2 separate regions of the Homo sapiens genome follow, and region 1 is linked to region 2. Evidence: fine-mapped expression QTL. A gene starts in region 2. The other region holds a variant in brackets. All regions are shown on one strand. Distances are from middle to middle. Region 1 has its middle 46 kb from the start of POU2AF1. Region 2 holds the start of POU2AF1 (POU class 2 homeobox associating factor 1).

Region 1 (4,269 bases), 46 kb before region 2:
TGCCTTTTTCCAGAAAGAAGAGCATCTTATTGTGAATGGATCTCACCTTTCCTCTAGTCTCTAGAGCTGAGATGGGTAGAGAACTGATCCTTTCTTAATGATTTCAATTTAGTAGCTCCACTTTGCTGGGGTATATTTAACAGCATTATGAGAGAAAAGAGATGTTCCAATAGAAAATGGAGGCAGGCAGGGACTTTTTCTTACCCACTTATGAAGAAACTCTGTCACTGAGATCATTCTAGGTCTCTTCAAGGAAATAATATCCTTGTGGGGAGTTGATTTTCATTCTGTCTTTGTGACTTCAGTGGTGGGATTGTAAATCAATTGTGTTTGCAAAGACTGAGAAATGTTCTGATGGCGCTGGTGAGCTCCCAGGGAAGCTCCAGAAAACATGCTCTGCTAAGGCACATACACTTTGAGTAAACTCCGGGGTGATATTAACTTTCCCACACCGGCCTGGGAGCTGGCTGTGCCAAACCTGCCCGGGCCTGCCTGCCTCTGATGCAGTGTGATACAGGGGCGTGGTAAGGGGAGTGTAGGTGAAGAAGCCTTGGGTGCTGGTGAAGAGGGTGACTTCTGATCTGGTCTTTCTCATCTAGTGGTGGTCATCATCTGGAATTCAGGCCGGCCTGGGCTCTGGTAGCAATGGGAAAACTGAGGAGTCAGGATCTCTGGAGCATGGAGGGAGAGTCACTGTGAGAGGAGAGCCCAAGGTGTGCTAGAACTATAAGGGAACACTACAGATTGAAACACCTTGTCCACCCACCACCGCTACAATGCAAACCCCTTTCCCTATCCCTGCCATATTTGCCATGCATATTTCTGCAGTACATTCTCTCTATTGTGTGTTCTCCTTTTCTTTTGCCAAAGAAAGTGTCTTTCCAAAGAGCTTTGGAGACACGGAGAGAGAACCATGGGTGCTAGAGTCTTCTGCCAGGAGGATCTATACAATGTGTAGATACAACCACTCTCAATCCAGTCCTCCTTTCCATTTTTTTTTCATTTCCCTTCCCTTCCTCTGTCACTGCTTTCATGGTTTCTTGGCAATTCTCACCTCTCTCTGGCTGGACCACCCACTTTCTCATTGTGGGAAGACACTGAGCATACCCCACATGAACTCATCACCCTCCTCCTTGTCCCGCTGTGCTCCTCTTGACACCCTGGTTTTTGGATAATGATGCCAACATTCTGTAAATCACCTAGGCACTAGAGCCCAGGTCAGTTTCTCCTTTTTTTTCTTTCTTTGAGACGAGGTCTGGCTCTGTCATCCAGGCTGCAGTGCAGTGGCGCAATCTCGGCTCACTGAATCCTCAACTTCCAGGGCTCACGTGATCCTCCCACCTCAGCCTCCCGAGTAGCTGGGACTGCAGGTGTGTGCCACCATGCCCAGCTATTTTTAAATTTTTTGTAGAGATGGGGTGTCACTATGTTACCCAGGCTAGTCTCAAACTGTTGAGCTCAAGCGATCTTCCCACCTTGGCCTCCCAAAGAGCTGCGATTATAGGCGTCAGCCACTGTGCCCGCCCTCAGATCCATTTCGATGCTTTTCTTGCCCTTGCTAGTTCCCAGATTGAGTGTAGTCTGCTTGGTTAGTATCTCTTGCATTCATACCCTATTTTTCTTCCTACCTACTGCTCTGATTTTGGTAATTATCTCTCATCTGGGTTACTACAGTAGTTTCTTAACTGAAATTTCAATATTTCCCGTCTTTCTTCTTAAGTTTTTCTTCTACTATCGGGCCAGATAAATCTTCTAAAAGGCGCTGATCATAACCTTGCAGCATTAAAAACTGTCATTAACTCTCCATTGCTAACCCCCAAGTCCCCAGGCTCCTTAAATGGTCAGCACTGGGGGCTCTCCAGTCTTCTTTTTCGACTGTATCCTTGGAGGGACTATGAGCTCCATGAGGCCAGGGCTCCTGTGTCTTTTGTGTATGTGTTTATCTCCATGATCAGCATGGAGCCTGCCTATGGTACAGAGTGCCTGGCATGCAGCAGGGCCTCAACAACACCTGTGAACCCCCTACCCAGAAATGCTGCCACTGTCTTCCAGGAATCCTTACTGCTTCTAAAAAATACCCTTCATTTTTCCTACCTCCTCCTTTGCACACGTTCTGCCTGGAATGCATGCCCCATGATAAAAGTTTGTTCCACACCTACCCATTTTCCCAGGTCCAGCCCAAATGGCGCCTTCCTTCATGTAGCCCTCTATGATTGTACAGAAGGACCTGCTCATCCGCTTTCTAAACTGCCATGGCAGTTTGTCCCCTCTCATGGCCCTTGACATCACATCTCTTCTCTAGTAAGGTTTGAGCTACTTGGGGACCGGGCTTGTTTTTATTAATCTTTTAAAGTACCTAATACAGCCTGGCTCACTGCAATCTCTATCTCCCAGGTTGCAGTGATTCTCCTGCATCAGCCTCTTGAGTAAGCTGGGATTACAGGCACCTGCCACCACGCCTGGCTAATTTTTGTATTTTCAGTAGAGACGGGGTTTCACCATATTGGTC[A/G]GGCTGGTCTCGAACTCTTGACCTCAGGTGATCTACCCACCTCGGGCTCTCAAAGTGTTGGGATTACAGGCGTCAGCCACTACATCTGGCCTAATTTTATTGAATTAATAAACAAATGCTTAAGTGACCGTAAATCTTTTATCTGCAGGCTTGGTTTATTAATAACCACATAACCTTACCACTTAATGATGATGAATGACTTTGAGGCCAGTTAGCATTCAGTTTATTGGCCTCAAATAAATGAATTATTTGGGTGGATTAACCAACTGTAATAAATGTGAACAAATTAGCACTGTCATCTTACAGCAAAAATTATATTGAGGTGAATTCCATGCCAAGTTGTGGGGCAGGACGCCCAGCATTTTCGCGTTAACTCATCATCTCCTTTCTCACCCCATGGTGTTCCTCTTGACTCCTTTGTTTTTAGATAGTGACACCAACATTTTGTAAGTCATCCAGCTCTAGAGCCCAGGCTAGTTTCCTTGCTTTCCTTGCCCTTGCTGCTTCCCAAATTGAGCATCATCTATCCGTGTCACTCTCAGTATCCTGGGGCACTGGATTGTATCGACTTGGGCTGTGGATGGGAGATGCCCTAAAGATGAACCTGTGAGGGCCTTTAGTGTTTCTCTAGCTAAGAGCTCTCTGAAGAACATGTTTCTTGCGATGGGCAGGATGGGAGAGGCTGGTCAAGCCTCTGAGCCTGTGCTCATTTCCCTTCACCTATTTTGCTCCTCCATGAGGCTTCTGTCACCACTGGTGGTGGTGGTTCTAAGGCTGTGGTGACCTGGGGAGGGTCTCTGTGGTGACTTAGCACCTGGGGAGGGAGAGGTCTGGCTTTCTCGGCCTCCTCTTCTGGCAGGGCCCTGAAAGGAGCTCAGGCCTCGGAGATTTCCTGGTTCCAATGTCCTTTCGTCTTAACAGTCCTCAGCTCACAGCTCCTCCAGAAAGTGGTCTTTATGTGTAAGGAGCTGAGTTTTCATCCTGGCATGTCTCTCATCTTTCTATGCCTTAATTTCCTCATCTGATGGTGATATCTATTTTTTGAGGGTGGTGGCATTGTTTTTGTGTATTAAATGAATGTCATATACTTTGAGAACCAAGCATGTTATATTATTATTTATTGTCATTGATATCGACAGGTCCTTTGGAAGTTGTCAGCTTGGGCTCAGCTGCCTGTGGTGTAAGGGTGGGCAAGGTGTCTAAGAATTCCTTTGGGGAGGGGTAGGCCAGCTCTCTGGGAGGTAGTTAGTAGGAATGCTTAACTGAATGGTTTGGTGCACATGATGCTTTGAGATCGGTGCAGTGGGGACCTTGGAACACATGCCATTAGTCTGGCCCAGGCTGGGCTAAGGGCCTGTCCTGGGAGTTATTTCAAGTTTTGACAATGGAGATATGGCACTGATGTAAAAGGATTTGATTCTTAGGATCTTCCAGATAATGCTGCCCTTATTTGGGAGCAGTGGATTGGGGGAGAGTTGGAAGATGTTCCCAGAATCTAATTTCTAGGGGAGAGAGTGCCTCATTCGGTCTCCCGGGCCCGCCACCACAGCGAGCTCTCAGTAGGGGGAGCTCTGTCACTGCGGTGGCCCTTCTTGCTGACTCGGGGTGGAGGGGCTATCTAGGCACCTGAGGAAGGCTTAGGAGTGGCCAACAGGGGTCTCTTCTGCAGGAGGAACCTGAGGTGTCTGCTGAGGAGCAGCCAGGTCAGGAGTCACTGGCTACAGGGTCCCCACCTGGAAAAGAAATGGAAATGCACTGTG
Region 2 (4,269 bases):
TGAGTGTCAGAGCCTTCATGGGAACCCACGTCTCCTGTGACTGAGGCAGGCCTGAGGGATGTGCCTCTGTTTCTCATGGAAACTCCTTGGCGCAGCCCAAGGCCTTGAGATGCTGCCCCCTGCCAGGCCAGGGTGTGGGCTGCCAGCCACCACAGCATGGGGGCCTCCACTGTCCTGAACTTCAGAGGCTTTGCGGGGAGGGCTTATAGGCAGCCAGGAGACAGCCTTCTCTGGCTTTTAAGTGAATCATTTATAAAATGTTGACAGCATTTCTCCTCAAGACCTGCCCTCAAATCAGCAACCGATTAGAGACAGTAATTCATAACTTTATCAGATGAATTTTTATTGGGGGTCACTATGCTCCAGGTCTTGTGTGGGGCACTGGAGAGGCAAAGATGAAACCTCCTTGAGAAACTGTCAGAGTCATGTGACAATTCACCATCACATAATGAACAAAGTGCTCTAAGATCTGAGAAGACGAACAAGTATTCTCTGGGCTGGGGGTTTGTCCTTCCGGCAAGAGAGGACGGCAAGGTCAAAGGCAGGGAATTGCATGGGTGTTTGGTGGTGCTTAGAGGGCACTGGGACCAGTGGTAGGAGGGCAGTTGGTGGTGAGGCTGGAAAGGAAGGCAACGGCTCGATTGTGGGAGGCCTTCTAGGCCTCCAGCTCTGTGGCTGAAGGGAGAAGGTGAATGCTTTGTAGGCTAGGGGATAGCATGATCAGGTCTAGGTGGTGCAAGATGGCTCTGAGGCAGTATGGATGGCAGAGCAGCAAGGCCCCACACCTGCTCTAGGGGGTGTGCCAAGGGGTCTTGACCCCAAACTGACTGAGTCCCTGGAGCCTGAGCATGTGGACCTCAGATATGCAGTGGCAGAAGGCTTCCAAACTGTGAAGGAACCGGTAGCCAACACCATCTACACTTCCAGATGGTGAGCCCATGACTTACTTAAAGAAGCTTCCTGTTATCAGTGGGTGGGCACTCGCAAAGAGGCTCTGTTCATCTTGTGCCTACAAGCCCAGATCCAGTCAAAGAGCACGGGCATGTTCTCCTTCCTTCCTTGAGGGTTGGCCTCTTTTTCCGTGGGCATAGCCGACATCAGAGCCAGCGCCCCCATATTTCAGCATGATTAAGCCTTGCCATTTTGGGGGTGGCTGGGGGCGAGGGGAGGGGCTACTGTGTTTCAAAATGGAATAAACAGAAAAGCAATATTGAAAGAATGAGGAGGTTGTTTACTGAGGCTTGAAGAGATGACAGGTGTTTCCTCCCAGTTGAGAACCAGTGACCCCTGGGAATCGCATTTCCCGCTGAGCAGGCGCCCATGGCGGGCTGAGTCCTGCCCATGCCCTGGTGGCCTGGAAGCCTGCATGGGCGCCGTGCAAAGATCAACGTTTTCCAGAGGAGCTTTTGGGCTCATCACTGGCCTGGGGAGGGCTTGACACGGGGTTCCCACAGCTTGCCCCACACCACCTTCACACCCACACACAGCAGGTCCCCGCGGGGCCGGTGCAGGCTGTGGCTGCCCGCGCTGCGCTGTTGCTCTGTCCCAGCTGGCTAGCTCCGAGTGTGGAGCGCTCTGGGCCGGGGCCGCTGGGGCGCGCACAGTGGGGTGACAGGCGGCCTGGCTGCAGAAACGTTGCACCGGTGCCTGAGGTGGGAGGATGTGATGACGCGGCCCACGCAGCGGGAACCCAGGCCTTTAAAAAGCCCAGGAAACAGCCTCAGCTCAAGCGGTGGCTCCACTGGAGGAAAACACACCCCGGTCTCACATTAAAGAAGCCAAACTGTCGGCTTCAAAGAGAAAAGGCAACATCCTGTCACAGGCCATGCTCTGGCAAAAACGTAAGTGGTTTGGCTGTGGCTGTCAGACCCAAGCGAGTGCCAGCGGGGCAGGGCGATCACAGCTTGGTCTGGAATTGGGGAGCTGGTGGTGGAGGTGATGGGGCCACGGGGGGAGGGGGTCTGGGTTCCAAGCCCCGGAGCAGGGAGGGGGGAGGTGGGCGGGATGGAGCCTGGTGGAGAAACCAGCCTGTCAGAGGTGATGCTGATTTTCCAGGCTGGAGGGGAACGAACTAGTGTTCCAAGGTGGGACGGCTCAGGGTACCTCCGCTTCTGTGCATGAATCACTGTGGTGAAGAAAGGGCAGTTTATGATTCACACAACAAAAGCCAGATGTGGGATGGGTTTGGGGTTGGGAGGGAAAAGCCATGCAGTTCTTTACAGGAGGGGCTTTATTTCCATAAGCAGTGGCTCTTCAGCCTTCTGTTGAATTCCCTGGGCCTGTTTCTAGCTGAGTGACTTAGCTTTCTGCCAGGTGTGACTTGTCCCTGTGGATACCCTGGGAGGAGTGGAGATCTGGCTCGGTGAAGCGTGTCCTCACTTGCTCCACTGTCTTGCCTTTCGTCATTCTTTTTCCCCTTCTGTGACAAGGCTTGTCCATCCCACTGCAAAGGATGCAGTGGGTTTATCTTTGGCCTTGATTTTTATCCCCGGAGTTGGATGAAACAATTGTGAACTTTATTTTCCTTTATGTGGACCAAACAGCGACTTACCTTACTAATAACTGAAATAATACAGATTATTTACAACATTCTTTTCACGAGGTAAACAGCGTCAACTCATCAGCTTCTGAGAGTTGAACCTTATTGGGGCTAGTTCTATACTTCCTCAAGCAAGAAGAATGACCAAAAATTGCTCTGTCTTTCTCTTAAAGATTCTTGGTTCCTTAAAATTCGTTTTAATTAATTTTAGTATGCTGTGCCTCAAGCAAGCTTAATATAAGAGAATCTAGATTTACAGAAGAAGATATATTAGGGAATGTTTTTATTTTATGGAAAGATACTTGATTGGATCCACTAAAGTTCGGAAAATATAACTTCATTGATTAAAATGTGACACTGTCATCACCAATTTATTGTTTGCTTTATGTCTTATGTAAATTTCTCTGGAATTAAGCTGATTAACCAGTAACACAGAAGAGTGATTTCAAAATTTCTCAGGTTGTGAAGACCCACCATTGTTTGATATCAAAAGGTCAATTTTTTAAAAAAATAAAGAGAAATGAGCTTTAATTTGGGTTTGAGAGTTATGGACTCCTTCCAAGATAACTAGGAATATTCAAGAATTGTTGGCACGCCACTCTTCCCAACAGGCGATGGAGCAGCGGCAGCCTATCCTTTCTGGGACAATGGCAGCTGACCCTGTTGTGAGTGCTGTGTGGATGAGAGCAGGTGGGCATTCATCTTTTTACTGGGGGCCCCTAAGCATCTGTGTGCCCTTTCACTCAGGGCTGAATCATTTGATTTTTGTGTGAGCCCCTGGAAGGAGTTTTGCCTCAGCTCCTACCTTCTATGAGCAAGCCACTTTCCTTTTTCTCAATCCTTAGGTTTTTTGTATGTTAAGTGGGGGTAAAAATCATATCCACACTGAGGATCTATCCTTAGTAAGTGAGGTGCCACCGAAGTCATGTTCATTGCTCTGTCTGCATCAGCCTCTGAGATATGAGTTGCTTCCCTGCATTCACCATCTGCCATATTCTCCCCTCTTGGTTCTGTAGTACATTTTTTCATTTCTAATTCCTTCTAAGAGATGAACAGACTTTTTTTGTTTGTTTGTTTGTTTTTTGAGACAGAGTGTTGCTCTGTTGCCCAGGCTGGAGTGCAGTGGCGCGATCTCGGCTCACTGCAACCTCTGCCTCCTGGGTTCAAGTGATTCTCTCGCCTCACCCTCCCTAGTAGCTGGGACTACAGGTGCCCGCCACCACACCCAGCTGTTTTTTTTTTTTTTGTATTTTTAGTAGAGATGGTGTTTTACTATGTTGTTCAGCCTGGTCTCGAACTCCTGGACTCAAGTGATCCACCCGCTTTGACCTCCCAAACAGGTGTGAGTCACTGCACCTGTCCCCCAAATTTTTTAAAGGGGATGCTGGAGGGCATGCTTCCTGCTCACACCCTGGAGACCAGTCAGATAGATCAAAACTCCATTGTAAGGGAGACCACATTGTAAGCTCATCAATGGAATAACTGGGGTGAATGTTTCCACATGTTCAGATGAACACAAATCAAAATTATCTTGAATTGTCCTTTAAGCCTTAAAGGAAAAGTAGGAGAGACCCTGGGCTCTGGACCCACCCCCTTAGCCTGAACCCAAGTATGTGGTATAGAGGGCACCTGGGTGACTAAACCGTGTGGGAAAATCAGTAAAAACAGGGCAGCATGTCAGCCCACTTAGAGTCACCCGATGGAAGGGCAGGGTTTGAAATCAGACACCA

What was found.
Region 1: its variant is fine-mapped to the expression of POU2AF1 in whole blood (TOPMed, PIP 0.97).

Annotation. Positions count from the first base shown.
Region 1 is chr11:111,423,007-111,427,275 of GRCh38, reverse strand. It overlaps a transcript of BTG4 not described here. Among named protein-coding and RNA genes, the nearest start is that of POU2AF1, 46 kb to the right of the region's middle. The variant A/G (reference allele first, on the strand shown) is at 2,510.
Region 2 is chr11:111,376,734-111,381,002 of GRCh38, reverse strand. POU2AF1 (POU class 2 homeobox associating factor 1) reads left to right here and starts at 1,728. Exons shown (of 5, transcript NM_006235.3): 1 at 1,728-1,841. The coding sequence starts at 1,826. RefSeq lists enhancers at 572-791, 1,012-1,101, 1,752-1,801.